Linked DNA regions of Homo sapiens: all the other regions are reported to be linked to region 5. The links are microRNA targets in miRTarBase. Many come from high-throughput screens and were not tested one by one. Region 5 holds a microRNA gene; each other region holds the end of a gene's coding sequence.
What was found. The annotated mature microRNA hsa-miR-4284 reads GGGCUCACAUCACCCCAU and lies in region 5 at 2,894-2,911, opposite strand. An mRNA with a match to its seed (bases 2 to 7 or 8) in the 3' UTR can be bound and repressed. Matches are read on the target gene's strand: a 7mer-m8 pairs with bases 2 to 8, a 7mer-A1 pairs with bases 2 to 7 and ends in A, and an 8mer does both.

Region 1: miRTarBase lists KIAA1210 as a target of hsa-miR-4284. Seed matches in the 3' UTR shown: 8mer at 748-755.
Region 2: the mRNA of SHISA2 is a reported target of hsa-miR-4284. Seed matches in the 3' UTR shown: 8mer at 1,159-1,166.
Region 3: miRTarBase lists SKIDA1 as a target of hsa-miR-4284. Seed matches in the 3' UTR shown: 7mer-A1 at 3,066-3,072 and 7mer-m8 at 2,948-2,954.
Region 4: miRTarBase lists ZNF333 as a target of hsa-miR-4284. Seed matches in the 3' UTR shown: 7mer-m8 at 1,250-1,256.
Region 6: miRTarBase lists ZNF556 as a target of hsa-miR-4284. Seed matches in the 3' UTR shown: 7mer-m8 at 3,120-3,126, 8mer at 2,115-2,122, 8mer at 591-598 and 8mer at 218-225.

Annotation. Positions count from the first base shown.
Region 1 is chrX:119,077,660-119,081,749 of GRCh38, reverse strand. KIAA1210 reads left to right here. Exons shown (of 12, transcript NM_001394962.1): 12 at 246-3,115. The coding sequence ends at 421. Among named protein-coding and RNA genes, the nearest start is that of CT47C1, 6.7 kb to the right of the region's middle.
Region 2 is chr13:26,042,889-26,046,978 of GRCh38, reverse strand. SHISA2 (shisa family member 2) reads left to right here. Exons shown (of 2, transcript NM_001007538.2): 2 at 1-2,382. The coding sequence ends at 466. Among named protein-coding and RNA genes, the nearest start is that of SHISA2, 7.1 kb to the left of the region's middle.
Region 3 is chr10:21,511,652-21,515,741 of GRCh38, forward strand. It overlaps SKIDA1 (SKI/DACH domain containing 1), which reads right to left. Exons shown (of 4, transcript NM_207371.4): 4 at 1,824-4,090. The coding sequence ends at 3,445. Among named protein-coding and RNA genes, the nearest start is that of SKIDA1, 12 kb to the right of the region's middle.
Region 4 is chr19:14,718,879-14,722,968 of GRCh38, forward strand. ZNF333 (zinc finger protein 333) reads left to right here. Exons shown (of 12, transcript NM_032433.4): 12 at 1-3,021. The coding sequence ends at 447. Among named protein-coding and RNA genes, the nearest start is that of ZNF333, 31 kb to the left of the region's middle.
Region 5 is chr7:73,710,148-73,714,237 of GRCh38, reverse strand. It overlaps MIR4284 (microRNA 4284), which reads right to left and starts at 2,921; the gene lies at 2,841-2,921. The region is part of intron 1 of STX1A (syntaxin 1A); the gene reads left to right.
Region 6 is chr19:2,877,654-2,881,743 of GRCh38, reverse strand. ZNF556 (zinc finger protein 556) reads right to left here. Exons shown (of 4, transcript NM_024967.3): 4 at 1-4,090. The coding sequence ends at 3,415. Among named protein-coding and RNA genes, the nearest start is that of ZNF556, 12 kb to the right of the region's middle.

The DNA of each region.
Region 1 (4,090 bases), not on the chromosome of region 5:
CCCATGCCCAGGGCCCTGTGGCCATAGCCAAGTTGATTTTACCCCTTTGACATACTACCCATGGCATCACACAGGTCCTAACTTTTAGAAGTCTGGCACCAAAGGGAGAAGAGTTTAGAAAGCACTAGAGCAGGGGGATCAGAGGAAACCTGAAAGGAGGAAACATTATATGGCATTCCATAAACAACATACCCCAATATCGCTGGGGTTCCTTATTGCTTGTGTGTTATTTGCTGTGGTTCCAGTTGGATTTGAAGCTCAGAAGATACTGCAAGTTCCTGCCATGGAAAAAGAAACCAAACGATCTTCAACTCTCCCAGCCAAGTTCCAGAACCCAGTTGAGCCAATTGAGCCTGTCTGGTTCTCACTGGCCAGGAAGAAAGCCAAAGCATGGAGCCACATGGCAGAAATCACGCAATAAAGAGCTCTTGTGTGGAGCATCAGCATTTATTTTATTTAGTTTTTTTTTTTTTTTTTTTTTTTGAGACAGAGTCTCGCTCTGTTACCCAGATTGGAGTGCAGTGGCGCGATCTCCGCTCACTGCAAGCTCCGCCTCCCGGGTTCACGCCACTCTCCCGCCTCAGTCTCCCGACTAGCTGGGACTACAGGCGCCCGCCATCACGCCCGGCTAATTTTGTTTTCGTATTTTTAGTAGAGACGGGGTTTCACCATGTTGGCCAGGATGGTCTTGATCTCCTGACCTCGTGATCCGCCCGCCTCAGCCTCCCAAAAGCTGGGATTACAGGCGTGAGCCACCGCGCCCGGCCAAGCATCAGCGTTTTAAATGATAATTGCTAATAGCTGTATTAATTCTATGTAGTGATCTTTTTACTGTGACCACTTGTATTAAGCAAAATAAGTATTAAGCAAACTAAGAATTTATTAAGCAAAATAAGAATTTATTAAGCAAAATAGCCTTAGAAATGCAAATTAAAACATAATTATTTGAATGAAATAAATGCCATGAATGCTTAACCTTCCACGTAGTCACTGCCAGCACCCAGAAACCCAGCATTTCCTCTATTAAAACTATCGAAAACATTTGCACTGCTGTAAAATTGCAAAATCTTTAACTTTGGACAATGTGCTTTAGAAGGGAGAAAGCAAAAACATTTTGTTGGAGCAACTAGAAAATTGTCATTTCCCTCAACCAAATAAAGTAATTCTAATGGAAACATTCAGATGATTTGACCTAAAGATTGGCCTTTAGGTTTTATGAGCCTAGATAGATGCCGCAATTATTTGGTTGTTGCTCTAAGCTTTGCAAGGGATCCTAAAAGAGGCGGTGGAAGTGAAAATTCTGGGTCTCCAAGAAAATTTCTGCACAGCCAGTTCTCCAATCAGCCTATCACCCCTTGAAACATCTTCCCTGTGTCCCTGGGGGCCCCTGATGCTTTCTCCTTGGGTGATAGTAACATGCAGAGCACTTACACAAAGCTCCCTCTTTGGACATACCCCACGTCGACCTGTCACAGGCCTGGCTGTAGCGAGCACCTCCCTATGACGCAGAATGCTTCTTGGGAATTATCTTACTCCTCTGGAGGGTTAGTCCATCAATGTTTTGCTTCTTGTCCCAATACTACTGTGACCCTCTCTGATCGCACAGAAATCACTGCCTATCACATATATCCTGTTAAGCACTGAAGACCCTATTGAAATTAGAGTTCTACAGATGCCAAAAGCTGTACTTTCCATCAGGCAGATGGCAAGCTTACTGCCTTGATGCACATCTGGAGCCACTGGAGCTCCTTCCTCTCTGGTTCCAGCATTAAGGTGGAGAACTCCATGTAGCTTCTTGTCCTTTCCCCTCAGCTGTCTTTGCTTCACAAGGTTTTAGCCCAAAGCAAGAGTGCAATCCCAAAGCCACAGAGAAATGAACTTTCCGCTACCTGGAAGCTTTAAGTGAGTAAATCAGCTTTTCCCCTCTCATTCCTAGAGGCACACACCTCAAAAGTTACTAGGCTGGAGAGACCCTACCTTCCAGTGACCCACTCATCCCCCAGCCACGGAGAAGAGGGAAGACCAAAAAGGGAGAGTGAGAAAGAGGATGAGAGGGATGGTCAGCTGTGAGGGGAGGGGGCAAGTGGCCCAGCAAATGTTGATGCCTCCCTTCCCATCTTGCCACACGGTCTTTTTCTTTTGTAGCACAGCCTCCATTAATAACTCCTCGGCTGAGGATGAAGATGTAGGCACCTTTACCCCCAGAGCCAGTTCCTTAATTGGCTGGCTTTCTGAGATGCAGACCACCCTAGAATCTCATCTAGGTTCACTAGAAGTTAGTTAAATCTTCCTTTCTCTGTCTTTCTCTTCATTCCATCCCCCAAACCCACCAAACACTAAGGGAGAGCTCCCTTTGGATGTCTGGGCAGTAAACCTAGCTCATTTTTCTAGGAGACCCAGAAGTGACTTCTGAGTAGTTATCACTGTGTCTGCCTCTGTTACACTGTGCTGCTTTGCTTAAACAGAAATGCAGGCCTGGACATCTGACTGTGCCTTTATATTCTGAGTGGGGTGCTGCCCCATGCAAAAAAATCCAGAGAGGTAGTGAGGTGTCAGAGCTAAACACTTGGTGCTGGGTTTTGTTGATGCTGGTATAATGTGACACAGTACAATTACATGCTAAATTTTGCATTTTCTCTATATAACATCTATTTTTCCTGATACTGTGCCTTTGCCATTTTGATAATGCTATTTTGATTGAGTGAATTTTATTTCCTTTGTATTCCCATAGTGAACAATATATTAAGGTAGATGCCCTTTATCTGGGTACTCCTGGTAGATTAGCTGTTACACCTCCCTTCCCTTTTTTACAGTGAACCTGTATTCAGTTATTGTCACTCTGAGAACTCTCCAATAACAATTTCTTTTCCACAGTTAACAACACAGCTGTTACACCTCCCTTCCTTTTTTTCACAGTGAACCTGTATTCAGCTATTCTCACTCTGAGAACTCTCCAATAACAATTTCTTTTCCACAGTTAACAACAAAGTTCTGTTTTTAAATGAAGAGATTAAGTTCTTTTTAAATGCCTAAAGGCATATTCTGACAACTTTTCTACTTCTTTAACTTTTTTGATTTAAGATATATGCAAAGCAAATAAATTCAATAAAGCCTATTCTGTAGTCCATCTCTGTCTGTGACATGGGGCGGGAAATCAAATAGGATATTGACAACTCAGAGCTGAAGGTTGTCAGAGAAGTAAAACGTTCTTTTTTTTTGAGACGGAGTCTCACTCTGTCGCCCAGGCTGGAGTGCAGTGGCGCGATCTCGGCTTACTGCAAGCTCCAACTCGCAGGTTCACGCCTTTCTCCTGCCTCAGCCTCCCGAGTAGCTGGGACTACAGGCGCCCGCCACCAAGCCCGGTTAATTTTTTTTGTAGTTTTAGTAGAGATGGGGTTTCACCGTGTTAGCCAGGATGGTCTCAATCTCCTGACCTTGTGATCTGCTCGTCTAACGGCCTCCCAAAGTGCTGGGATTACAGGCGTGAGCCACTGCGCCCGGCCAAAGTAAAATGTTCTTAAAAGGTGGTGCTGAGAATAAGGGGCGTCCACGCAGGTGTGCCTGACCAAGCTGATGGCTTTCAGGTGAGCATTGATATTTGGTATGGGGGAGAAGGGCCACTGAAGAGGTTTTACGTTTGGACACCTGGAGAATAAAGAGGGGGTGTGGTTGGGGGACGAGCAGAAGAGACAAGGTGATTGGTGGTTGCACTGTAGCCTGGGTCAGGGACAAAGTCCAAGTCCGATAGCAAGATGGGCTACTGCAACAAGCGCTTTTCAGAAGCAAGGGGCCCTACTGTGCTCAGGTAACAAAGTGGCATGGAGGGAGGAAGGGAAAGGGGTTATAGGCCAGATAATGAGCCTGGCTCACCTGTAACATTTTCAGGGTTTAGAACAAGAGTTCAACTTGGGATCCACATACCATATGTCTAAATATTTGAAATGTTTAAATAAACGAATACAGCATGTTTTATTTAATGGTTTATCTCCTTCCATGACAAATGTACCTTCATAATGACCTCAAAGGCCAGGTTGGGTTCTAGAATTCTCAGACTCCTGTAAGTCCTGCCCCAGTGGTGTGGGAAGAACTG
Region 2 (4,090 bases), not on the chromosome of region 5:
ATGTCTCCGGCCTAAGCAGGATCCCCAGCAGAGCCGAGCCCCAGGGGGTAACCGCTTGATGGAGACCATCCCCATGATCCCCAGTGCCAGCACCTCCCGGGGGTCGTCCTCACGCCAGTCCAGCACAGCTGCCAGTTCCAGCTCCAGCGCCAACTCAGGGGCCCGGGCGCCCCCAACAAGGTCACAGACCAACTGTTGCTTGCCGGAAGGGACCATGAACAACGTGTATGTCAACATGCCCACGAATTTCTCTGTGCTGAACTGTCAGCAGGCCACCCAGATTGTGCCACATCAAGGGCAGTATCTGCATCCCCCATACGTGGGGTACACGGTGCAGCACGACTCTGTGCCCATGACAGCTGTGCCACCTTTCATGGACGGCCTGCAGCCTGGCTACAGGCAGATTCAGTCCCCCTTCCCTCACACCAACAGTGAACAGAAGATGTACCCAGCGGTGACTGTATAACCGAGAGTCACTGGTGGGTTCCTTTACTGAAGGGAGACGAAGGCAGGGGTGGATTCTCGAGGTGGAAGTCCGCACATGTCGGTGGTATTTATGGCACGATTCCTTTGGATGGCTTCATTTGCCCCCAGACTGTATGAAAACATCTCCGAATTAGCATTTCTGGATATGTTTCATCCAGGGTATCATTGATTTATGATGGAAAACCGGCCTCAGCTGGAGATGACTGTGATGTTGCTGATGGGTGTATAACAAATGCTTGAGTCCGAAGTGCCCTTGAGATATGGTTGACGAAAGAATTTTATAAACTGATAAATTAAGGATTTTTATTATGTTGTTATTATTATTTCTTTTTTGTTGTTGACTGCACAGGATCAAAATGCCTGTTATCTCCCTTTTACCTGGGACTTTTTTTTTTTTTTTTTTTTTTTTTAATCAGACAGGGTCTTGCTCTGTTGCCCAGGCTGGAGTGCAGTGGTGCGATCTCGGCTCACTGCAACTTCAGCCTCCTGGATTCAGGCAACACTCCTGCCTCAGCCTCCCACGTGGCTGGGATTACAGGTGCCTGCCCCCATGGCTAATTTTTTGTATTTTTTGTAGAGATGGGGTTTCACCATGTTGGCTGGGCTGGTCTCACTCTCCTGACCTCAAGCAATCTGCCTGTCTCAGCCTCCCAAAGTGCTGGGATTACAGGCGTGAGCCACCGCCCCCAGCCTGAGCCTTTTTTTTTTTCTAATGCATCCAAGGTTAAGGGGAAGACGCAAATAACAGGACTATTCTAAAAGGAAACCTGTTTGAACTCTGTGAGATCAGTCATCAGTCTCAGTATTCCACAGGCACACCTTAATTTCATTGTAAAAAGATATATATATTTTGTCTATTTTTGTGCTTTTGGGGGCCTATTTTGTGCTTTTTTACCTTATGTAGAGATCTTATTACAAAGTGATTTTCTACATTAAAAAGAGACTGAAATAAATTGTATAGTTACTTAACTAATGAAGACATTTCAGAACTCTGGGATGATTTTAATCTTGAAGTAGTAGGTGGTATAGTCATAAAACCATTCATCCCCTTCTTGATTGTATCTTAATTTTCTGGCTTTAAGGTGACATCTGAGAGGTAATGCATTCTTTTTTATATTGAAATCATAAACTATCACCCGCTGCTTCTCTGAGTTACTTTTAATTTTGCCTTGTGGTTATGGTTTGGCGTTTCCTTCTGTTTGGTTTTCAGAGCCCCATGTCTATATAGTCCTGAGTGCAAGTAATTACTATACTTGTAAATGAAGATCAGTATTTCTGCCTAGATCTGATAAAAAAATTTTCTTGTCTTAGTTATAAAAATTCAAAGAAATGTGTTACAAAGATACTTAGTATAGCTCCTCAGCCATAACCTGAGACTTGGGATGAAATTTAAACCAGATACGATTTACTTTGCAGATCATAAGGCTTTTTATACTCTTGTTATCAAAATGGCTTATTTTTCAGGCACTAAGGATTGTTAAGAGAAAAGCTTTTCAACGAAGGATTGCCTTTCTTCTCCCACACTGTTCTTGATTTCCTCTCTCTTTCAGGCCTCAACAGGCACTGTATTCATTGCCAATGTTCCAAATTATCAAATTCAAGTGAATTTATTTGTGTGTTCTTTACTTATATAAAAAAAGATAACTTTAAGGATGTGCAAGTACATTTCCAACTGCTAGCACAACCAGTATTTTGTAATTAAACAAATCGCTGTATGGTATGGTCTTCTACACATTTATGTCTATAGATATCTATCGATCATCTTTCTATTCTGTTTCATGACTGAATAATGTAAAACCAGTGTTGGCAATTGGTATCATCAATGATACTCATTTTTTAATAACCAAAGGCAGGGGAAAATCATTTTACTTATTAATAAATATTTTATGATGTGAATTCCTAGCGGAGTTGGGTTTCTTTTTTCATTTTCATTGTACTTGGTAATTTTTCAGATGGTCTAGTCAACCCTGTTAATAGAATAAAATTTCTAAAAATTATGAATGTTGCTTTCTAGAACCAAGAGCCTATTTTTCAAAGTAATATCTGGGAAACTTACGTGAATGTTCTGAGTCAGTGAGTATTATTTTACAGGTTGACATGTTGACAACACAAAAGAAACAGTTCTTTTGGAATCATTATATTATGAGGCTAATGGGTGTTCCCTGTATTGTCTTTGATGGTGGATTCCTGCTTACCTCTGGAAGTGGAATTCCTAGAACTTTGGAATTTAAAGGGATCTCAGATGTCACCCAGCCTAAAGATTGGCAAGCTTTTTTTTTCAGTAAAAATCCAGAGTCTGGCTGGGCTCAGTGGCTCACCCCTGTGATGGCAGCAATTTGGGAGGCCAAGGCGGGAAGATCGCTGGAGACCAGGAGTTCCAGTCAAGCCTGGGCAACATAGCGAGACCCCATCTCTACAAAAAAAGAAAAAATAAATAAAAATTAGCTGGGCGTGGTGGCGTACTTGGTAGTATCAGTGATTTGGGAGGTTGAGGCATGAGGTTCACTTGCAAGCTCAGGAGTTGGAGGCAGCAGTGAGCTATGATTTCACTACTACATTCCAGCCTGGGTGACAGAGTGAAAACCTGTCTCCAAAAAAATAAGAAAAAAAGATCCTGAGAGTAAATATTTTAGGTTTTGCCAGCCATATGGTATCTAGCAGCCATTCACCTCTGCAGTAGCAGCACAAAAGCAGCCATACATAGATACACATAAACAAATGAGCAAGTCTGTATGCTCATAAGACCTTTTTTTTTTTTTTTTTTTTTTTTTTGAGATGGAGTCTCACTCTGTCGTCCAGGCTGGAGTGCAGTGGTGCGATCTCGGCTCACTGCAAGCTCCGCCTCCCGGGTTCACGCCATTCTCCTCATTCTCCTGCCTCACTCAGCCTCCTGAGTAGCTGGGACCACAGGCACCCGCCACCACGCCCGGCTAATTTTTTGTATTTTTAGTAGAGACGGGGTTTCACCGCGTTAGCTAGGATGGTCTCCATCTCCTGACCTCGTGAATCGCCCCCTCCGCCTCCCAAAGTGCTGGGATTATAGGCATGAGCCACCACGCCTGGCCAAAACCTTCTTTATATGCACTGAAATTCAAATTTCGCATGATTTTGACATGTCACAAAATAATCTTCAGTTTTTTTCCCGAAAACATTTCAAAATGTAATTGTAAGCTCCAGTGCTGTACAAAAGCAGGCAGTGAGCAGGATTTCCCTGGCAGGCTATAGTTTGTCAGTCCCTCATCTAATCCTCCTTTCCCCTATGCAGGAGTCACCTCTGTGGACATTTTTGGCACTCTTTTTTAAACAGGGATGGAAAATGCTTGCTTTTCTTAGCATGAGATTGTATAGTTCTTCTATGTGGTAATTAAATACCATGATTAAAGCAAAAAAAATACACCTTAATGAATGAATTTTTCATTTAGTGACTGCTACTTGGTTTTCCAAAAGTATAACATTATTAGAAGCAACCTCAGATCTTTTCAGTTTTGGTAAGAGCTGGAAAAATTTAGCTGACAAAGCAAAAATGTTCAACTACCTGTTTTAAGGACACCTTCCTTATCATGAAATATAAATCAGAACCTATAAAGGGTAATTTGCACCTTGT
Region 3 (4,090 bases), not on the chromosome of region 5:
TTTTATAGGAGACCAAAAATAAGTTTGTTAACCCAAAAAGTTAGAAAAAGAGCCTTTTCCTGCTTTTTTTCCTCATGTCTGTAAATGTTGGACTTTAGACACAGGAATCAGTCACCCTGGAGTCATATAGTGCTTGTTTTTTTGTTTGTTTTTAATTCTATGCCCTGAAAACATCTAAATGTAAAAATGTAATCTATCAATGGAGGTAACTTGTTTTTTTCTCAATAAGGCTTAACTTTCTGAACAAATGGGACATTTATAGCAGCTTAGAAAAGTCTAGATATTGTCATTAATCATAAAACAACCAAAATAATATAAACAGTACTGAGAATAATTCCCATATCAGAATGGGGAAACAACTAAGGGGCTAGCAGGAATTGAAAGAATACCTTGTATTTGCAAGTTACTGCATACTATTTGGTACACTTTCCTTACAGAAGCCCTAACTCAGGTTTTGCTGTGGTTGGCTGGCTTATGGTAGTACTGTGGGGTGAAATTTGTGTTGACTATTTAATTTCTTTCCTTTTGATGGTATCACTCTGGAAAGCCTCGGCCTCCATGCTGTTCATTCTCCAGCTCCTATAAACTGAAACTATTGATTCTCTGAGGGTTAGAGACTAAGTGTCAAAGCTGGAGGCCAATATTTTATGTCAGAAATTCCACAGGGTATATTTGTTTTAAATTGTGCTTATTCCATCTTACAGTCCTTCCACATCCAAGATCTGTAGACTTCAAATTTATTCTCACTTTATAATTTAGGAACAATGAGTCCTTAGCCAACAAGAGAAGTACTAGTCTGCGTGTAGTAGTCACCGTACTTTGAACTTTCTTAACTTAGAAGTAATTAAAGAGTAGAAATTACACTCTTCCAATGTGTGTGTCACACTTTTTACAGATTGATTTTTCAGGACAACTTACTGCACCTAAATTCTGTATTGCTTTCCAAAGAGGAAAGAACTGAGATTATGAAGCCAATTGTTTAGCTTTCTGGGGCTTTAACTATAACATGGACTGGTCTTTGGAATTATATACAAACAAGAATTCAAGGATACCATCCCCAAATTTTCACTTTGACCATATCTACCATTCCAATAAAAAAGAATCCAGTGAACCTACACCTGGCATGGCAACATTCAAGAAGGAAAGGAAGGAAGGTAGTTGAAAGCATCTGTTTACTCCATCCAAATGTATTTGGATGCAGGTATTCTCAGCCTCGGTCCTTTACAATAAGAGGAAAACCACAGAGCATATTCAGCAATTAGGGGCTGAGGCCATCCAGATCTAACTGAAACATTTATAGACAAAAGGAAAATTTCAAAGGGAATAGGAACTAAAAGGTTAAGGAAAAACAAAAACAATAGACTGAATTTCCATGAGAAATAGTGACTTAAATTCACACAGTAAACATTTCATTGGTGTTTTGTTTTGTTTTGTGATTTATGATCTATAGATGCAACTTCTTAGATTCAAGATAGCAAGGATCTGAGATACATAATTTGTCAGACTAAAGGAGGTGGGCCAGAAATTATTAGATTCAACTTTCATTAAAAAAATCACTGATCTCTGCTTCACTTTCTTAAGCCTGAAACTTTTCCTACTTGATGTGTAACAAGTTTGTAAAGTTTTGTTCTTGCTTGGAAAGAAATCCACCAGTGTTCTGCACAGAACCTGACTGGCCTCGTCACATAGTATTACAACAAAACACTACACCCAATAAATGCATTTCTTTCAGGCAAAAACATTACAAGTGAAAATGTCAACAAAACCATTCAATCCTGTTAACCGTTCTTCAATCTGGAATAAGTAGAAATGTATGGAACCAGGAATTTTAAACAGTGTTTTTAATTGAAAATAAAGCTAAAGCATGCTTTTCAACAGTGCAAATTTCCATAATTTTGATTTACTGCTTCCATCATCACAACACAGTACACCAGCATGGCCCTTACCCAGGGCTAGACCCTAGCATTTGCATGTTGAACTACTTTGATTTTAAGTGCAAATATAGATAGTCACCTCTGATTGTCACTTGCAGTAGAAACTCTCCTGCTCTATACACAGGATGGTCTGAAAACACAAGTTTTAGAGAGATGCAGAAAAAGTATAAGGTCATAAAATCCAAGTGCCTGAGTTCTGGTACCAAAAAGCCCTGAAAAAACTGTTATTTTTCATTTGGGGTATTGCAACTCTGACCCCTCATTTTCTTTTTCTTGGTTGTATTTACTGATTTGTCACTATCAAGAGTTCGGCCATGAAATATTCTGCTATTACGAGAAATATTTCAGCCCGGGCATGGTGGATCACACCTTTAATCCCAGCACTTTGGGAGGCCGAGACAGGCGGATCACCTGAGGTCAGGAGTTCGGGACCAGCCTGGTCAACATGGTGAAACCCCGTCTCTACTAAAAATACAAAAATTAGCCGGACATGGTGGCACGCGCCCGTAATCCCAGCTACTCAGGAGGCTGAGGCAGCAGAATCGTTTGAACCCAGGAGGTGGAGGTTGCAGTGAGCCAAGATTGTGCCACTGCACTCCAGCCTGGGCGACACAGCGAGACTCTCTCCAAAAAAAAAAAAAAAAAAAAAAAGAAATATTTCAATTGTTTTGGGAGTTTGAAGAGTCATGTTCAGACCACAAGATAAGCAGGACAATAGTAAGAGTCACCTTATTTAAAACCTTTGGGTGAGAACACAAAACAGACTTTTCCTGTTGCAAAGGAGTGGCTTTAAAAGTAAAATCACACCCTTTACAAAAAAAATACAATTCCGTATTTATTTTACTCAGTATGTATGAGGCAGCTTTTACTAGCATTTAATCAGGACTCACACCCCAATCTTTCCACTAAAAAAAAAAAAAAAAAGTTAAGTGCAACTACTCTTGGAGAGGGAATAAGGGGAGTCAAAAGAAAAAGATACCCCACAAACAAGAGCTCCAGAAAATAACATTTTGGGCTCACAGAAACTTCTTGCTACCTCACCTCACCTCACTGTGTAACCATGTAACCTAACAAACTTTCACTGAATTAACAGTTACACTTTCAGCTCTGAAATCTAGTGCATAAACTTAATGGCTCATTGTAATATTTATTATTCAACCTTTTGACATTTATTTGTAGCAGTTGAATTGAGGTACCGGGTGCATTATTAGCATCGAAACAGTAAAGTGTTCCAGCTCTACCGTAATAACTGAGTTTTACTTGAGTCTTTAGCCTGAAGTAGTCTGTGGAATGTAAACCAACCCTTCTCCCACCCCGCCCCCACCCTACTCCAGAAAAAAAAAAAAAAACCCGCAACGGAAAAAAAGTAATCCGATTTCTGTCTTCAAAATGCGATAAACCAGGACTCCAAAGGGGGTGTAACACATTAATGGACTTGTACAAACCATCCTGTGCAGTTTACAACAAAAGGAAGGTAATATGGTTCAAGAAAATATCTTCCAAAACATTTTTATGAATTAAATTTCCTGAATTTGTGACTAGGTGGAAGAGGTATTGCAGAACCGCCCAGCTGCCATTTCCATATAGGATGGGCCTTGTGAGGAGTTTGAGAATCCTTAGTGGTGTTTAAGGAATACGCCGGCCACAAATCCCCATCTCTCCCAATAATGAGTGATGGTGGACAAGGAAAATTTGCCATGAAATGAAATGGCCTTTTCACTGCTGATGCTACATTGCTGGCTACCTTTTTGCGTCTGTTTATAACTGTAAAATCATCCAGTGTTCCTTCATTTGTCTCAGTTTTACCTGTAGGACGAGGGCTTCTAGCTGATTTCAAATTTGGTTTGACTGGAGGTGTCTGAAGGACAGGTCGCTTTCCCAGTACTAGTGTCCGGTAATTTTTTCTCACCCTGGCACCAAATTTATATTCCCCATCCTCAGGTTTTGGAGAACCTAAAGTGCATGAAAGGCCCTGACTTTGAGCCAGTGGATTTAAGGAAGGAGTTTCTTTTTCAGGGCATGCAAAACCTTCCTTGGCTGTGGTTAACAAGGCGTCCTCCTCTTTACTCTCAGTCACACTGTAAAACTCACCCTTTGTATCATTGCACTCGCACTTTAGCTTATTTGTAAAAAGGTGAGGTTCATATTCTTCATTA
Region 4 (4,090 bases), not on the chromosome of region 5:
AGCACTCATCTGAACGTGCACAAGAGGATACACACAGGGGAGAAACTGTATGAGTGCGCGACTTGCGGTCAGGTCTTGAGTCGTCTTTCAACCCTGAAGAGTCACATGCGAACTCACACTGGAGAGAAGCCCTATGTGTGCCAGGAATGTGGGCGAGCCTTCAGTGAGCCCTCATCCCTCAGGAAACATGCAAGGACTCACAGTGGCAAGAAGCCCTATGCATGCCAGGAATGCGGGCGAGCCTTTGGTCAGTCTTCACATCTTATTGTACATGTGAGAACACACAGTGCCGGGAGACCCTATCAATGTAATCAGTGTGAGAAAGCCTTCAGGCACAGCTCCTCACTCACTGTACACAAAAGAACCCATGTGGGAAGAGAGACCATTAGGAATGGCAGCCTGCCTTTATCCATGTCTCATCCATACTGTGGGCCCCTTGCTAATTAACTTCCATTTTGTAAAAATATAAACACATGGGGCTATGACTTTCCCTCGTAATACTCCTTTAGCTGCATCCTGTGTTTCAATGTATAATATTTTCATTTTGGTTTAATTGTAAGTATTGTCTTAACCTCCATTATCGTTTATTCTTTGACCCATCTATTATTTGGAATTAGATTTTTCAAAACTAATATGTGGATATATTTTCATAGAGGTATAATGACTTATAGTGAAATGCATACATCTGAAGTGTACAGTTGGATGAGTTTGACAGATGCATACATGCATGTAACCACCACCCCATTCCAGATATAGAATGTTTCTATCTCTCTGGAAGGTTCCTGCATGTTATATGGCTATTTCTTAGTTGCCTTTTTGTTGTTGGTTTCTAATTTAATTACATGGTGAGAAGAGTATGTGGCCTCTTTGTTACTGAGTCATAGGTATTTGCTGAGATTTGCTATTAGGTCTGGTGTGGCTTATTCTTCTAGCTGCCAACCCAAATTACCCCTTCCTCCTTAGAAAAGAACCTGGGTTTTCTGTTCAGATTGGCAGTGTGCACTATTAAAAAGCTTCCATCTCCCGGCTGGGCACGGTGGCTCATGCCTCTAATCCCAGCACTTTGGGAGGCTGAGGCTGGGGGATCACCTGAGGTCAGGAGTTCGAGATCAGCCTGGCCAACATGGTGAAATCCCCTCTCTACTAAAAATATAAAAATTAGCCAAGTTTGGTGGCATGCACCTGTAATCCCAGCTACTTGGGAGGCTGAGGCAGGAGAATTCTTTGAACCCAGGAGGCAGAGGTTGCAGTGAGCCGAGATTGCGCCACTGCACTCCAGCCTGGGCAACAGAGTGAAACTCTGTCTCAAAAATAATAATAATAAAAAAAAGCTTCCATCTCCCAGCCCTTCTTGCAAGCAAGGGCAGGCCATTTCCTCCGGTCCTGGCTAGTATGAATATGAGAAGTCACTGGATGTGACTCTGGGGAAGATATTGTGTTCAGGGATGGTTTCATGTAGCCACATCTCTCCACTTCTTGCCTTTTGGACAAGTAGACATGATTTCTAGACCTAGAGGAGCCCTCCTGTGACCATAAGGGTAAAAGCCGCAAGCTAAGAAGAGGGTGGCCGGAAGTCATAACCATCTTGCTTCTGTAATCTAAAAAATATTTAGGATAGATTTAATAGAATTGGCATATTTATGTGATTGCAGCAGCCCTGGACTATTTATTTCTGGATGTCCCATACATGAAAAATATGCACTTCTTACTGGTACAGTTTTCTTTTGTTTGTTTTTGTTTTTGGTGGGAGGTTTATTTCACCTGAATATAATTCCTAACTGATGCACTTAGTATATGTCAGTTTTTATAAATGCTTCATGGATGGTTGAAATCAATGTATTGTATTCTACAAATGTCTGCTAGATCAAGCAAATGTGTTTAAAAACCATCTACACATTTATAAATGTTGATCTGTGATCTAGCATTTATTGAGAGAGGTATGTTAAACTCTCCCACCATGATTATGTATTGCTGAAAAATCTTTGTCATTCTGTCAGTTTTTAAATTTATGTATATACATACATATATATGTTTTGAAGCAATGAAATTAAATATAGATACTGACATTTTTTACATTTCCAACAAATTGTTACTTTTATTCTTATAAAGTGATCATCCTTTTCCCTATTACTGAACATTCAACCATTCATTGTAATGATAGTAAATACTTATTTAGAGTTTACTATTAATAGATAGTAGCCACTGCCTGAAGCTTTGCATCTTTTAATTTAGTCCTCACACTGACACTTTGAGGTATGTACTGTTATCCCCAATTCCCAGATGAGGAAGCTGAGGCCCAGCAAGTTAAGGTGGGCTATCAAAGTCATCTGGGTGGCATGTGACAGGCCTGACTCTCTCTACAGTGGCAGACCCAGGGGACTAGTCTCCATTTTTACTTGTTCTTTTTTTTTTTTTTTTTTTTTTTTTGGTTTTAAAGTTCTCTTAGGTATAACTTACATAAACGTTAATAAATCTTAGGGTACACCTTGGTGAATTTTGTATATGTCTATACCCACCACGGTCTCCATCAAAATATTTTATCGTCCCAGAAATTTCCCTTGGGCCCCACCTCATCCTCAAAGGTTATCACTATTCTGATGTCTATCACCATAGATTTGTTTTTCCTGTTCATGTAAATGGAACCATAAACAGCCCTCTTGTGTCTGTTTTCTTCACTTAATATAGTGTCATTGAGATTTATCTATGTTGTATTATCAGTAGTTTATGCTTTTTAATTGCTGTGTAATAGTCCATAGTCTGAATATACCACAATTTAAAAATTCTATTCTGTTTACAAACATTTGAGTTCTGTCCTCCAGGTTCATCCATGTTATCACAAATGACAGAATTTCCTTCCTCATCAAGGCTGAATAGTATTCCATTGTGTAGATATACCACATTTTCTTTATCCATTCATCCACCGATGGACAGTTAGGTTGATTCCATATCTTGGCTATTGTGAATAATCCTGCAGGTTTTATTGTTATGAATAAAGCTGCTGTGAATGTTCTTGTTAAGTCATACTGTGGACATAGGTATTCATTTCTCTTGAGTATAAATGTAGGAATGGAATTACTGGATTTTGGAGGAGACCTATCTTTAGCTTTAGTAGATCTTGCCAGACAGTTTTTCAATGTGGTTGAAACCATTTACACCTCAATTTGTACATCAATGAATGAAAGTTTCATTGCTTCACATCCTTGGCAACATGTGGTACTGTCACGCAAATTAATTTGAGCTACATTAGTGGGTATGCAGCAGTTTCTTAGGTTTAATTTGCATATTCTTGATAAGTAATGATGCAGTGGTAGATGGTTGCCACAATGACTTCTTCTATCCCTCTATGTATATGTCTTTTCCATGTGACTTTGCAGCTCCTCCTATCAAGAGGTGGAGTTTATTTCTCCAAACCTTGAAGACGAGCTTGGTCATGTGACTTTCTTTGGCCAATGGAGTGTTGACAAACATGACAGAAGCAGAGGCTGGAAGAACACACGTTGGGCTTTTCCTTCTTAGTTGTGACCATTTGTATGTCATCTGTGGAAAAATGTCTAAGTCCTTTGACCATTTTTAAATTAGTTTTTTGTTGTTGTTGAGTTGTGGAAGTTCTTTATATATTCTGAATATTAACCCCTTATCAGATATATGATTTGCAAATATTTTCTCCCATTCTAGGGGTTACCTTTTTACTTTATTAATTGTATCCTTTGATATGCAGAAGTCTAAGATTTTGGTGTAGTCCAACTTATAGATATTTTTTGTTTTCTTTAGATGTCATATCCAAAAAATCATTGCAAATCTAATGTCGTGAGGCTTACCCCCTATGTTTTCTTCTAAGAGTCTTATTGTTTCAGCTCTTGCATTTAGGTCTTTGATGTATTATGAGTTAATTTCTGTTTGTTTGTTTGTTCGTTTTTGTGTTTTTGAGACGGAGTCTTGCTGTGTTGCCCAGGCTGGAGTGCAATGGCGCAATCTTGGCTTACCGCAACCTCCGCCTCCCCGGTTCAAGTGATTCTCCTGCCTCAGCCTCCTGAGTAGCTGGGACTACAGGCGCATACCACCATGCCTGGCTAATTTTTTTGTATTTTTA
Region 5 (4,090 bases):
ACTCGGGAGGCTGAGGCAGGAGAATCGCTTGAACCTGGGAGGCGGAGGTTGTGGTGAGCCGAGATTGCGCCACTGCGCTCCAGCCTGGGCAACAGAGCGAGACTCTGCCTCAAAAAAAAAAAAAAAAGTGCCAGGACAAATTGGATGTTGGTTGGATGGGAGAAGAGGAGGAAGATGGCAGATGTCCTAGGTTTCTGGCTTGGGGTTCTGCGCTAGGCAGTTCAGAGGATGGGGCTCTGGCAAAACAGGTGGAGCCTGGTTTTGGCCAGGAGGCAGGCAAGGTGCCCGTATGATATCTGGGCACATCCGTCCGTAAGACACTTGGGCCTTTGAGTTTGTGCCCCACAGTTCCAGCTGCCACCTGCACAGCGAAGGGTTCCAAGTCCCCAACTCCAATCCAGCCCCCTCTCCAGAGCTGTGAATGCCACTCAGAAAGCATTGGTAGATCCCCAAGGGAGCTGGGCCCTAATTATTCCACAGAAATCTGTGTGTCCACTTTTGTTTTTTTGAGACAGGATCTTGCTCTGTCACCTAAGCTGGAGTGCAATGGCACGATCATAGCTCACTGCAGCCTCGACCTCCAGGGCTCAAGCAATCCTCCCACCTCAGCCTCCTGAGTAGCTGCAATTACAGATGCATGGCACCACGCCCAGCTAATTTTTGTAGCTTTTGATAGAGATGGGGTCTTGCTATGTTGCCCTGGCTGGTCTCAAACTCCTGGACTCAAGTAATCCTCCCACCTTGGCCTCCCAAAGTGCTGAGATTACCGGCGTGAGCCATCATGCTTGGCCACTTTATGTATACAGTGCCCGCCCTGGCCAGCCCAAGACACCAGGAAGACAGCATGCCAGGGTAGCCACATCACCTAGTTACATTTTGGTCAAGAGTGTGTCTGGGCTGGGAAACAGAGGAGGTGAGGGTGGCAGTGGGGCTCTGCCATCCCGCGTCCTTATCAGTTTATTCCGTGTCCAATGAGAACTGATTCCTTATCTGAGTGAATCTGGAGGACATCTCTAGAATGCTGCCACCAGGCTCTAGCTTGGATGTGGATGAGGGTGCAGGGGCGACAGAGCCAGGAGCCATCAGAATCCCACAAACTGAAATAAGCATCAGAACAAATGAAGAAATGAAACAGGAAGAAGGTCCTTCACTCGAACCCCAAATCCACTCCACAGACAGTGGTTGGGAAGGGCTTGGGGCTTTTCTTGACAGGAAATGCTACATGATCACTTATCTGATTCCTGGCTGTATTACTAGAGGTAGATCATATAGAAAGAGGGAGGGGATGGGCCAGATCTTTGGCATTGCCCAGACCACAGTCAGCAGCAGATTCAGTTTGTGTGCTGTATGACAGGAGACAGAGGCACAGTGGAACAACTCTTGGGCAGGGGCTGTAATTTGGGGTCCCTGGGAAGGATCTGAAAGGGAAGGAATACTTAAAAAGAAAAATCTAGGGAGGATGTGGATGCCGCCTTCAAATCTATAGCAGGGGTACCCCAGGGAGAGGGCACCCACAGGTTCTTTATGGCCTGGAACCAAACCACAGGGAAGAGAAGGACTCTAACAGTTGGGGCTGCCCGAGATGGGCAGAGCTGTCTGGGGAAGCTAGTGAGCTCACTGTCACAGGAGGTTTGCAAGCTGAGGCTGGCAGCTGAAGCCAGGGGGACTTTTCAGGTCCCTTAGGGCCTGAGAGTTTTCAGCCATGGCTCCAATAGGAATGTGAATGGCGTGTGGAAGAACAAGGTGCGAGATACTGATTTGGGGGGGCAGGGAGGCTTCTGGAAGGAGGTGGCATCGAGGAAGAAGGGAATGTCACCTTCATGGAATCAGCATCCCGGGCAAAGGGATGTGCCTGGGGGAAGTTGGGGGCAGAGGGTGGATTGTAGGGCCAGGAACCAGTTGTAGGTGTGGGGGAGTGGGGTCTGATCCCAGGGGAGGGCAGCAGGATAAAGAGCAGAGCTGGGGGTGAAAATTCCCAAGAACGAAGAAGTAGAAGGACGTGGGGAGGAAAGGCCCACTTCGCCCATCCCCTCTAGGTTTTGCTTGGAGCTGTGGCTGGTTTGACCATGCCTCAGAGGTCAGGCCCTCAGCCCCCCGACTGGCTTTGGGGCCAATCTCAATGCCACCTCCAGGGTAGACTTGACCTGCGTGCCCCCATCTACCCTGGCCCTGATCTCCCTTTCCCCAGCCCTACCCTCATAGACGGAGGGTCCAGAGGAGGATGCGGGCATCTCTCCTCCCAGCCCTTCTGTTAGAGAAGCTTCCTGGTCCAGCCTTCAGCCTTCTGGGAAGGTAGCAGGTCAGAGCTGGCCGGATGCCTGGAGAAGATCTGCCCTCATTACACAGATGGGCAAGCTGAGGTCAAGAGAGGCACCAGACAGGTGCCAGGGGTCTCTGAGGGCAGGACAGGGGTTCGGTGGGGCTGGCAGTGACGCTCGTCTCTGGCCACGGAAAAGGAGCTGGATAATTCTCCATCCACCCTTTGTCATCTACCCTGATCCTCTGAGCACCAGGGCAGAGAGGGCAGGACACTGAATGGCAGGAGCTCCTGGGGCCACTTCCCAACCTGGCAGCCTGCCCAGGAGGAGGAACTGGGCTCCTCCTGGCAGTGCTCTGCCTCAGTTTCCCTAGGGAGGGCTCCTCTGACTCAACTCCTAGGCCTGTCACGGTCTAAAAGCGTGAAAACGGCTCCTGGATTTTCTGTGTCTGTAGGGAGCTTGGTGGGGGAGGGGGTACCACCTGGTGACAGCCCCAGGCACTCGGTGGGGAGTGGGAACGAGGATTTATTTTAGCTGCTGGGGAGGTGGTACGATATCTTAAAGAGAGGAGGCCCCTCTGAGCCGCCTCTATCAAAGCTCCTAACTACCCCCTCTCCCCATGAGTCCCCACTTTGATGGGGTGATGTGAGCCCCTCACAGAACATGCTCAGGCCGGGCATGGTGGCGGCTCACACCTATACTCCCAGCACTTTGGGAAGCCAAGGTGGGAAGATCACTTGAGCCCAAGAGTTTGAGACCAGACTGGGCAACATAGTTTGACCCTGTCGCTACAAAAAAAAAAAAAAAATCAAAAAGTAGCTGGGTGTGGTGGCATGCATCTGATGCATCTGTAGTCCCAGCTGCTTGGGAGGCTGAAGTGAAAGGATGGCTTGAGCCCGGGAGGTTGAGGCTACAGGGAGTTATGATTGTGCCACTGCACTCCAGCCTGGGTGACAGAGCGAGACCCTGTCTCAATCAATCAATCAGTCCATCCATCAATCAAACAAACATACCTGCCCTGCTTCCCCACTTTTTCTCAGCCCTCCCTCCATGCAGCCAGGTGTCACTGTCCCCATTTCACAGAAGAGTAAATAGAGCCAGAGGGGTTAAGGCCCAGCCTGATGAGTCCCATCAGTTCTCTCAGCCCCTCAACCTCCACCTGCCTCCGTCCTGACGCGAGAGCACCGAGGTGGGGTCAGTGCTGAGCTAGTCAGTGGCCACTCCCGTGAGGCACTCAGAAATGAGGTGGGAACAAGATCAGATGTGGTGGTTCACGCCTGTAATCCCAGTACTTTGGGAGGCCGAGGCGGGTGGATCACCTGAGGTCAGGAGTTCGAGACCGGCCTGGCCAACATAGTGAAACCTGTCTCTACTAAAAATACAAAAATTAGCTGGGCATGGTGGCATGCACCTGTAATCCCAGCTACTCGGGAGGCTGAGGCAGGAGAATTGCTTGAACCCAGGAGGTGGAGGTTGCAGTGAGCCAAGATCACACCACTGCACTCCAGCCTAGGTGACAGTGCGAGACTCTCTCAAAAAATAAAAAAATAAAAATAAAAGAGGTGGGAACAAGCCCTGAGCCCCAGGCTGAGAGACCTCAGTCCCTGCCCCAGGGTGGCCACCCCGGATATCCTTGCCTTGGCTGCAGAGAGAGACCTGGCCTTGCCAGCAGCGTGGGCTGACCCTGGCCAACTGGCGGTATGAGGCAGACAGTAATAATTGTGCGCAGCATGCTGGGAAGTCAGAAGTATGATTACCCCTGCCCCACGATGGGGGTGGCTTTTGTACAGCTGGTCCTGGGACAGTGGAGTGGGGCTTGTAACTGTGGCTGA
Region 6 (4,090 bases), not on the chromosome of region 5:
ATTTAAGACATATTACATGGTGGAACTATAAATGAATTCATGATGAGATTGTCACTTACTGAAGCCCGATCCTTTATTCTGCATTCCCTATTATCTACCTTGTCAAGTTTGATACTATACTTTATTCTGCCTTGATATTATCCAAAAAAAAAATTTTTTTTTTTTTGAGATGGAGTCTTACTCTTGTCGCCCAGGCTGGAGTGCAGTGGCGCAATCTTGGCTCACTGCAACCTCTGCCTCCCGGGTTCAAGCGATTCTCCTGCCTCAGCCTCCCAAGTAGCTGGGATTACAGGCGCCTGCCACCACGCCTGGCCAATTTTTTGTATTTTTAGTAGAGACAAGGTTTCACCATGTTCACCATGTTGGCCAGCGTGGTCTCGAACTCCTCACATCAGGTGATCCACCCGCCTCGGTGGGTCCTGGGATTACAGGCGTGAGCCATTGCTACTGGGCTCCAATAAAGTTTAAACTTGTTTTATTAGTTATCTTTTTATGTCTTTTGCTAGACTTATTTAATACTTAAATTTATAAAACCGTTACGTAAGTTTTTGTCATTATGAATAAACAAGAATTTATTAGGCTGGGCGCGGTGGCTCACGCCTGTAACCCCAGCACTTTGGGAGGCCGAGGTGGGCAGATCACAAGGTCAGGAGATCGAGACCAGCCTGGCCAGCATAGTGAAACCCCGTCTCTACTAAAAATACAAAAATTAGCCGGGTGTGGTGGCGGGTGCCTGTAATCCCAGCTCTTCAGGAGGCTGAGGTAGGAGAATCACTTGAACCTTGGCGGGGGGGTTGCAGTGAGCCAAGATCACGGCACTGCACTCCAGCCTGGGTAACAGAGCGAGAATCTGTCTCAAAAAAAAAAAAAAGAATTTCTTAGACAAAATTATAACAGTATAGGAAACAAATGTACTAGAAAGAAAATGTCTAAATCTGAATGCATCTGGTAATATTAATTCAGAAGTATAATTCTTTTTTTTGAGACGGAGTCTCGCTCTGTCACCCAGGCTGGAGTGCAGTGTCGCAATCTTGGCAAGCTCCGCCTCCCAGGTTCAAGCCATTCTCCTTCCTCAGCCTCCCGAGTAGCTGGGACTACAGGCACCTACCAGCACACCCCACTAATATTTTGTATTTTTAGTAGAGATGGGGTTTCACCGTGTTAGCCAGGATGGTCTCGATCTCTTGACCTCATGATCTGCCCGCCTTGGCCTCCCCAAAGTGCTGGGATTACAGGCGTGAGCCACTGTGCCTGGCCCAGAAGTATCATTTTTAAAGTCACCATGTTGATTTGGCAATTTTCAATATTTTAATACATTCTCCCAGTAAATAAAAAACAGAGATTGACATTTGTTAGTATACAACTTATTTGAAAAACTCAGTTAAATAGGCTATTTCTAAGAAACATTTTATCCATTTGTATAGAATCCAACTTCTTTAAAAACACAAACACAGTAAATAGATATTTCTCAGAAACAGAAACTTTTGTTTTAATAATACATAATCAAACATAATAACTGAACACATACTGAGAGATTGTATTCAGCTCTATGTGACAGGAAATTTCCAGAGTTTACCTGATAAGCCAGTATTGTCTTTCATTTTCTCATGAAAGGTAAGATTTATCTCACGAAGAATACTAGGTCACAGTAGATGCAGTAGGGAAACAATCCCCTGTGCTTTTTTAAAAAATTATTCTTTATTTATTTATTTTTGAGACAGAGTCTCGCTCTTTCGCCCAGGCTGGAGTACAGTGGCACGATTCCAGCTCACTGCAAGCTTCGCCTCCCAGGTTCACGCCATCCTCCTGCCTCAGCCTCCCGAGTAGCTGGGACTACAGGCGCCCGCCACCACACCTGGCTAATTTTTTGTATTTTTAGTAGAGACGGGGTTTCACCATGATAGCCAGGATGGTCTCGATTTCCTGACCTCGTGATCCGCCCACCTCAGCCTCCCAAAGTGCTGGGATTACAGGCGTGAGTCACCGCGCCCAGCCGCAATCCCCTGTGTTTTTATGGTTGTACCATTGTATCTGTCATGGAAGCAGGAACACAGAAGCACAAGAAATACTGAGACAATGAGGTATTAAGATAATGATAATATGGCCAGGCATAGTGGCTCACACCTGTAATCCCAGCACTTTGGGAGGCCAAGGCGGGCAGATTTCAGGAGTTTGAGACCACCCTGGCCAACATGGTGAAACCCCGTCTCTACTAAAAATACAAAAATTAGCTGGACATGGTGGTGCATGCCTATAGTCCCAGCTACTTGGGAGGCTGAGGCAGGAGAATCGCTTGAAACCGGGAGGCGGAAGTTGCAGTGAGCCGAGATCGTGCCGTTGCACTCCAGCTTGGGCAACATAACAGGACTCTGTCTCAAAAAAGAAAAAGAAAAAAAACCCAAAAAAACCTATTTTCCAATTCCAACCCAGAAGCCAGGTCAAAGAGCAAACAGCAACAGATGAAAAAAATAGTTCCCACGAGACTACACTCCTCCAAGAATTTGCATGCATACGTATTTCTACCAACTACCTATTAGTCCACAAGCAAAATGAAGAAGGATTCTCTGACCAATAGCATAAAGCCACTGAATTACTTGCCTGTATAAGTAGAAAGTATTAACATTAAAAATAGTTTTTCCCTGTAAAATGGAAAGGTGGAATAAAAGTAACATGGTAGTAATATCCAGCTTGGAACACACAGGGCCAGTCAGAAAATGTCAACAAACACCCATATTTCATTGGTCTAATGGCCTCACACGGAGTAACAAAAAAAATATATAAAAATTAAAGTTAATGCATATTAAAATACATCAGATCACCCATGGGTGCAATACACTTCTAAATGAAAAGAGAAACATTAGTAATTTATAAGAAAAAACCATTATGTATCAAAATTTCAGTACTATAGGTGAGAGAGGACTTACAGGATTCTCCCCTCAACTTTACCTGCAAGAGAACTGCAAATTCATTTGCTAGAGGCCCACTTTTAGGATGTGGTCCTGATAAAGGCAATACCATATTTATAAACGTCATGAGATTCTTCTCCTGCCATGAATTTTCTTTTTTTGGAGATGGAGTCTCGCTCTGTCACCCAGGCTGGAGTGCAGTGGTGCCATCTCGGCTCACTGCAAGCTCCGCCTCCCGGGTTCACGCCGTTCTCCTGCCTCAGCCTCCTGAGCAGCTGGGACTACAGGTGCCCGCCACCACGCCCGGCTAATTTTTTGTATTTTTTTTTTTTTTAGTAGAGACGGGGTTTCACCATAGCCAGGATGGTCTTGATCTCCTGACCTCGTGATCCGCCTGCCTCGGCCTCCCAAAGTGCTGGGATTACAGGCGTGAGCCACTGCGCCCGGCCCTCCTGCTGTGAATTTTCTGAACCATGTATGTGAATTAATTTGCACAGGTTTTCCCCCATTACTTAGATGTACAGGATTTCTTTCCTGTGTGACTTCTCACATGACCTTGAAAGGCTTTGGGACAACTGAAAGCTTTCCCACATTTTTCGCATTTACTGGGCTTCTGTCCAATCTGCGTTCTTACATTTTTGGAAGAGCAAAGCCCGCCTGAAGGTTTTCCCACACTGGCTGCATTTACAGGTTTCTCCCCAGTGTGCTTTCTCTCATGTTTGTGTAAAGATGAGGACCAACCATACGTTTTCCCACACGTTTCACATTTATAGACTTTCTCTCTAGTTTGTGATTTGACATCTGTGGAGGGGCGAGGCCTCGCGGAAGACTTTCCCACGCTGCCCCCACTCACAGGTTTCTTTTTAGCATGCGTTCTCGCGTGTTTGTGTAAGGATGAGGGCCAACCGAATGCTTTCCCGCATTTTCCACACTTATAGGGTTTCTCCCCGTTGTGAATTCTCACGTGTCGTTGAAAGGATGTTGCCCAGCAGTAGGCTTTCCCACACTGCTTGCACTCATACGGTCTCCCTCCGGCGTGCATGATCATATGGACTCGAAAGGATTTCTGACACCTGAAGGCTTTCCCACAGTGCTTGCACTCATACGGTCTCCCTCCGGCGTGCATCATCACATGTGCGCGAAAGGATTTGGGACAACTGAAGCCTTTCCCACACTGCCCACAT